Homo sapiens: one gene and its partner. The protein of the gene in region 1 purifies or fractionates together with the protein of each later gene. This does not show direct contact. Each region holds a gene or a part of one and is shown on either strand. Other genes may lie near its edges.

What was found. The genes of interacting proteins can lie anywhere in the genome.
Region 2: the proteins of ZDHHC13 (region 1) and GDPD5 purify together in Homo sapiens (co-immunoprecipitation; one large-scale study listed by IntAct). This does not show direct contact.

Annotation. Positions count from the first base shown.
Region 1 is NC_000011.10:19,162,168-19,165,667, reverse strand, and holds part of ZDHHC13 (palmitoyltransferase ZDHHC13), read right to left. Parts: intron 2,366-3,500; coding exon 2,241-2,365; intron 1,368-2,240; coding exon 1,305-1,367; intron 617-1,304; coding exon 523-616; exon of another isoform or gene 521-522; intron 1-520. UniProt on the Homo sapiens protein: Palmitoyltransferase that could catalyze the addition of palmitate onto various protein substrates. Palmitoyltransferase for HTT and GAD2. May play a role in Mg(2+) transport.
Region 2 is NC_000011.10:75,442,442-75,445,941, reverse strand, and holds part of GDPD5 (glycerophosphodiester phosphodiesterase domain-containing protein 5), read left to right. Parts: intron 1-1,446; coding exon 1,447-1,529; intron 1,530-2,655; coding exon 2,656-2,806; intron 2,807-3,360; coding exon 3,361-3,500. UniProt on the Homo sapiens protein: Glycerophosphodiester phosphodiesterase that promotes neurite formation and drives spinal motor neuron differentiation.

The DNA.
Region 1 (3,500 bases):
CCCACAATCTGAGAAACTTCTACAGAAGGGAAGAAAGCGGGAAGGGCAAGGCAGCTAAGTCTTCTCTTGCACACGCTGCCTTCTCAATGCTGGAGATGGGAGCATTTCAATGCTAATGACACAAATACTCCTCAGCTACTACATCATGGTCCGACCTTCTCCTGGAGCAGCAAAACCCGGCAGAAGGAACAACACCCATTGGAATCAGGAGACCTAGGCTTATGTATTACTAGTTGTGTCACTGTAAGTTAAGTGTTTTAACTTCTCTGATCTAGCGTTTTTACAAGTAATATGGAGATAATATTTTTTCTGTCTACTTCACAGGCCTGTGGCTACCAAACAGAATGATGCATGTGCAAATATTATGTTACCTGTAGCATAATAACGATGCATGGGCCCATTGCTATTGGAATACTAGAATATTGAAAATGGAGCCCTAGGATGCCCTTCCACTTTTTCTGTGAGTCATAACTAAACATATGCTTAACTTCACAGTAGTAATTGAAAAATTAAATCTCTCACCTATGCACCGTCCAGTCCACAGGCAGTGTTGATCATATCGAGCCACACAGCAGTTGCATACATGGCAGTGGAGTGACCTTAATGGCTTCCTTATCTAAGTGGGCAATTAAGAGAGGCCTAAGCAAAAACCAGTGTCTCAAAGTGGTAACAAATCACAAGCAAAATTTTAACTTTAGGTCACAGAGGCATTGGCACAAATCCTAAACAGACCATCAATTCACACAGAGGCTGTGGAATGCCTTATTAGTATTTACTTCCATATGTCTACTTTGATTAGGACATCACTAAGTGGGATCTGAATTCCAGAGCCTGTTCACACTGGCTAAGCAGAAATGAGGCAGTACCACAGAGCAAAATAAGCACTCAACCAAGGGAAGGAAACCCAAGTTCCATTTTTAGCACCACCAATAATTTGGGAGAATTTACTTCCTCCCTTGATTCCTCAATTGCAAAATGAGAGGTTTCACTAAGTGGTTTCTAAGGTCATTATGAGCCTCTGATTTGACGTTAGTTCTAATATATGCTTCATGACAGAGAAAAGCAAATAAAACACACAATGGATAATTCACGGAGAGATGTAACCAGAGACAACTTCAAGAGATTATAAACATCATTCTGCCATATGTTCAAGACAGAAAGCTGTTCAGACAGGAATGTAAAATTAGAAATGGGTAAAAACAAAGGTGTATAAATATACCATGAAGATCTGACAAATGCTTACATCAGCAACGTTACCAAGACTTTGCTTTCACTACGGAAAAAAATTATATGAAAAAACTCACAAGACATGATGTACAAAATGTTCTGAAGTCCAGAGAGCCAGTTTCTGCAAGGGTGATGATATTCTGAAAGACATGAAGTTTGACCTATTACCACATTTTATTGGAAAATGTATTATGCATGGTTATACACCATTCTCACAGTTCTCGCTCCAAACTGAAGTAGTTAGAAAAGCAATTTGGAATACTTGCCACCAAATCATTCTGTGCTTGAAATGATGTGACTCTTCAAGGTTGCATTTTCAACCAACAGCTAATAAATTAGGATGCATAAAAATTATACCACCCCACCACTCCCACCTATCACCTCATCTCTGTGAATGGCAATCATCTCCCAGTTATGATCTGCTAGAGAAAAATAAATATGCAAATATACACACACATTAAAAAAGAAAAACCCACCAGTATACATCAAAACTGAAAGTTACAAGCACCAAGGGCTGGGTCTTTCAGGAACACTGGCTTTAGGTAACAAAGACAACATTCTCCAACTTCTAAACATTCATGAGCAACGGAAAACATGCCATGTCATCTGACAACTTCACATTTGAGGAGGAGGAGGGGCATCTCCTCAGCCAATAAGCAGAAGGACTCTCCCTGGTCACTGACTAGTTACTCTCCATTTATTTAGTGGGGAAATGTAAGCTAAATGACCATTATGAAAATGTTATTACAAGGAAGTAGGAGATCATATTCCTAAAAGGAATCACATCTGAAAAAGTCTTGGTGGGGTATTATTTCAACAGAAAATAAAAATATGTGTTAAAACTTTCATATACATAAATGAAAAAACTGTAAGAGTGGAAATCTAATTTTTGCTATATCACCCCACATGTCATGCAGCCGTAACAAAAAGCAACACATCTGCATATGTGCATATAAACTTTCTAAAGTTTACAAACCCTCCTATTAAAAATATCAGTAACGAAGAAATCTCACCACTTTCTTTTCTTCTTCAGAAGCCTTAGTGAAGCCTGGATCAGTTGCCCAAGTCTTATAGAAAAAGTATAGAAAGGCTACTATGCTGAAAATGAAACTGAAATAGAAAGGGGCTCCTGCTAAATGTTAAAGCCAAGTTAAGGAATACACCAAACTTCCTTTAAAAATAATGTAATTATGATGTAAGCAAATTTCATCATTGGCACCTAAGAATCTCACCTTCCTTATGCACACATGTCCCTGCCCCTAAATCTCTTCCCATCCTATGTTCTAATCCTACTGGAATTTGTTCCCACTTGGCTAATAATTAATGTTTCCTTATTAGTTGAAGCTCATATTAAATACTTGATAGGAATAGTTGCAACTTATGAGGAACATCCTGAAAAGTGACACTCAAGACCAAATAAATTTATCTCTAATGGTGTAATTGTGGCTCTCCTGTGAGCATCTAGAAAAATATTCTTTGATCATTTTAACAAAATCATTCAAAGAAACAACCCTCTTGATTCAGAGATTCCAAATAAAAGTATTTCCCTATATATTAGATACATGTTTGCAGAAAGACACTATTAAAGGTACATAGGGCAAGATCCTTTGTGAAAGAATCACATCATAATTTCTTTATGAAATCCTGATCGACACACGACTCAAAATATATACGTTCAGTTCTCAAAAATACGTTCAGTTTCATAATGCAATGATCCTGCACGCTGAGCTGACTGAATTTTCGGCTCCTATTTTGATTAACTTACAAAACAAATGGCAGGGGAATCATTGGATCACCACTCTCCAAGTAAAGTGAATTACACCCTATCACCTCACATAGAAGCTGAAGACACTCCTTGCTTTGGTGCTCTTGCCTGTGTGGTTCACTGACCTAAAATGTCCCCTACTTCCTCTCATTTTCTTCTAAAACCACACTTTTAGGGTATCCAAGTCTTAACTGCGATTAAAACCTAACTTATATTTTCCCTCCTTCCTTGCAATCTTTTCTGATTCCCTGGAGAGAATCATACTCTCCCTTCCCTGAATTTAAGAATGCTTTATCTAAGGCACTCAGATGTGGACTATAGTTTATAGACACACAGCCTTCCCAGTAAGCTGGTAACACTTTTGCAGTTAAGTCTCTCAATATGGAGCTAAAATTTGCCTTTCTATAACTTCAACCAACTGATTTTCATTCATTAGATCCTTTAGATCTGCACAGTAGCTGTCTTTTAGATCTAACCTACATAAGCTTATCCCCTCATTGGTTCAATA
Region 2 (3,500 bases), about 56 Mb from region 1:
AAGAAACTCATTACTGAGACCCTGCTGTGTGCCAGGTCCTGGGCTAGGGTCTGTGACTTTTGTTATCTCACCTGTGAGGTTGATAATGTTAGCCCATTTTACAGCTAAAGAAACTGAGGCCCCAGCTCTGTGTCTGGGAAGTGAAATTGCACCTTTTTAGTCCGTTCCAAAGCCCTCACCACTCCCTGGCTCCCCAGTGCTAGGCTGTGTCACAAAAGAGGGGAGTGGCTGGGGAACATCGTGGCCAGAGGGAGAGAAGGTGGGAACAGGATTGTCTTCAGTGGGAATGAATGAGATCAGCCATGGGAATCCTTCCCACCTCACCTCTTCACTGACAGAGCAGGGCAGGGGGATCGGGGGTGTCCTCCCTCCCTCCTTCCCTCCGACCATCCCTCATGGACCTGGTCTTCGCCCAATCCTTGGTTTGGTGCTGACCCCCAGTGGCAGCAACGGGTATGACAGTCCTCAGATGAGACCCAACTAGGGAGGCTTGAATCCCAACTGTCCTAAGCATAAAGACCCTCATGAGTACACATCTCTAAGGGGCACATGGGGAAACTGAGACCCACAGAGAAATATACCCAAAGTCAGGACAATAGTTAATGGCAGAGTCAAGGCTAGAACCAGAGCTGGGTGTGGTGGCATGCACCTGTAGTCCCAGCTATTTGGGAAGTTGAAGCGGGAAGATTGCTTGAGCCCAGGAGTTTGAGGCTGTTGTGAGCTGTGATTGTGTCACTGCACTACAGCCTGGGTGACAGCAAGACCTTGTCTCTTAAAAAAATGCTAGAACCAGGATCATGTAAGGGGAAAACAGTTGCTATTTATTAAGCACTTACTGTGTATATCAAGCAGTGTGCTAGAGGCTTTTAATTCACGTAACAGTCCAGGGAGGGAAATAATGCTGTCATGTTTATATAGATGAGGAAACTGGTCCCGCACTGAAACTCTACCATCCCATCTACCCTCTCTTCCAGGTCTCCCCCCTGGACTTGTCTCAGGGTATAACCCTTGGTATAACCAAGGGTATAACCTGAATTTCACATTCAGCCCCAGCCCAAGACTGCCAGAGAGCCACAGAGGACTGTAAAAAAGCCCTCCAGCCCCAGTGTCTAGCTCAGTGCCTGGGATAGAGCAATGATAACATAGTGACCATAGCTACCATGTGTCAAGTGCTAGCTACATGTCAGGCATTTATATGCATCAACACTAACCAGCCCTGCCTCCCCCGCCCCCAGTAAAACCAATGAGGTAGGCATGATTTAATAGATGAGGAAGCTGAACTTCAGAGAAGCTGAGTGGGTGCCCAGGGTCACACAGCTACTCTGTGGAGGGGCCAGAATTAGAACCAGGCCTAGCCCAGCCTCCCAACATGAAAGACTTTCCATTGGCTGGGGAGGGTACATCAGCTGAATCTTGGCTCTCCCTTCACCACCCCTTCTTCCCCAGCTGGCTCCAGAGCACACGCTCATGTCCTTCCGGAAGGCCCTCGAGCAGAAGCTGTACGGGCTCCAGGCTGACATTACCATCAGGTAGGTGTAGCGGAGGGGAGATAGTTCCTCTACCCCTCCCACACGCTTCGGCATCCACCTGGGTCTCTGCTGGGGGAACCTCTGGTCTCAGAGCCTCTGAGATGGGAGGAGGAAGACTTAGATTATCCACAGCAGGGCAGGCACCCTGTTCCTGCAGACTCCAGGATGTAAAATAGAGGAAAGAACAAATGCTCTTGGTGCAAGCAGGAGCACTGCCACAGAGCCACTTGAAGGGAAAAATAGATGATAGAGCTACAACACTCTCATGAGGGAAATAAAGCAAGTTGCAGAGTGATACATTCACTGTGACTCCAGTTACGTTTTAAAATACCACAAAAAAGTGACATATACACTTTCTCCATGTACATATATAAGTAGATATTAGTATAAATGGCAGGAAGAATCCATACTAATCTCATAACAGAGGTTATCTGAGAAGGGAAGAAGGGCAGAACTGTCATATATAGTTGTACAGGTTGCATACTGAACAAGGGCATCACATAAATGAGGACATTGTTCCCAGTATAGACATAGAATTGTGTGTTTATCACAACTTTCTAGCAGATGGTGGTAAAATGCCTTGAGGAACAGAGGGCACAGGTACCTTTTACTGTTTCACACTAAGGCACCATATGAGCTATTTGCAACCCTGGTAGAGTAGACAAGGATTGGGGTTGGGTGGAATTTGCCAAAGAGGTCTACATTTGCACTGTTCTCATCATAGCATCACAGGGATTTGGTTCCAAACTGGGTTCCACCACTTACAGGCTGTGGACCTTGAGCTAGATACTTCCCTCTCTCAGCCTCAGTTTCTCCATTGTCAAATGAGGCAGCACCTACCTTCCAAGGTTGCTAAGAGAGTAGGTCCAGATTTTTCCCAGCCCTCCCTCCTTGGCAGTCCCCACCCCCATCTGACCCTCACAGAGAGCCAGAAGGCATTGGACCTTCAGGGTCACCCACCAGCCCACTGTCTTCCCTGTGCAGATGGGGAGACTGAGGCCCAGAGAGGGGCAGAGCCAGCCGGGATCCTGTGCTGGGTGGGGAGGACTGTGTGGGGTGACGATCATTGGTGGGCAGGTAAAGGATCTGGGGGGTCACTGACTCGGTGGCCCCACCCTCCCTGCAGCCTGGACGGCGTGCCCTTCCTCATGCATGACACCACCCTGCGGCGCACCACCAACGTGGAGGAGGAGTTCCCGGAGCTGGCCCGCAGGCCTGCCTCCATGCTTAACTGGACCACCCTGCAGAGACTCAACGCTGGCCAGTGGTTCCTGAAGGTCTGGCTGCACCTGATCCCAATCTTAGGCATGGAAAACACCAGCAGGGACTGCAAGGAGTGAGAGGTGCAAGGGTGGCCATCAGCTTCGAGACCCCCACTCTCAGAGCTTTCGCGACCTCCACCCAAGCTGCTTAGTGGCCTCCTAGGCTCCTGCCACTGCTGCCAGACTCATGGTTGTCACTGCTTGTTCTGGGTCCATTTCCCTCACTAGAAAAGGTTGACAGGGATGAGAGCAGTGAATAGAATTCTTAACTCTGTAAAACTCTAGAGAGGGGTTGGCTCTCTGATCTGAAATGCTCTAGAAGGAGAAATGCTGTGGGTCTGGGAGCGATTCCAAGCAAGCCGTCCTCCGTCCTCTTGGTAAGCAGGGTGTGGGGTAGAAAGGTTAGGGCTGGGGCCTCCTACAGCCTCCACATGGCCACAGCCATCAATCTGCCTGACCCCAGCAGACTCTGGCAGCCCAGGGGTCTCCACGCTTGGTTGCCAGAAGGGTATGTGGGGGCCCCCAAAGGGCTGATGATGCAGCCATGTGTGTGTCCCTGTCCCTGCCAGACTGACCCCTTCTGGACAGCCAGCTCCCTGTCACCCTCCGACCACAGAGAGGCCCAGAACCAGTCCATCTGCAGCCTGGCAGAGCTCCTGGAGCTGGCCAAGGGCAATGCCACACTGCTGCTCAACCTGCGTGACCCGCC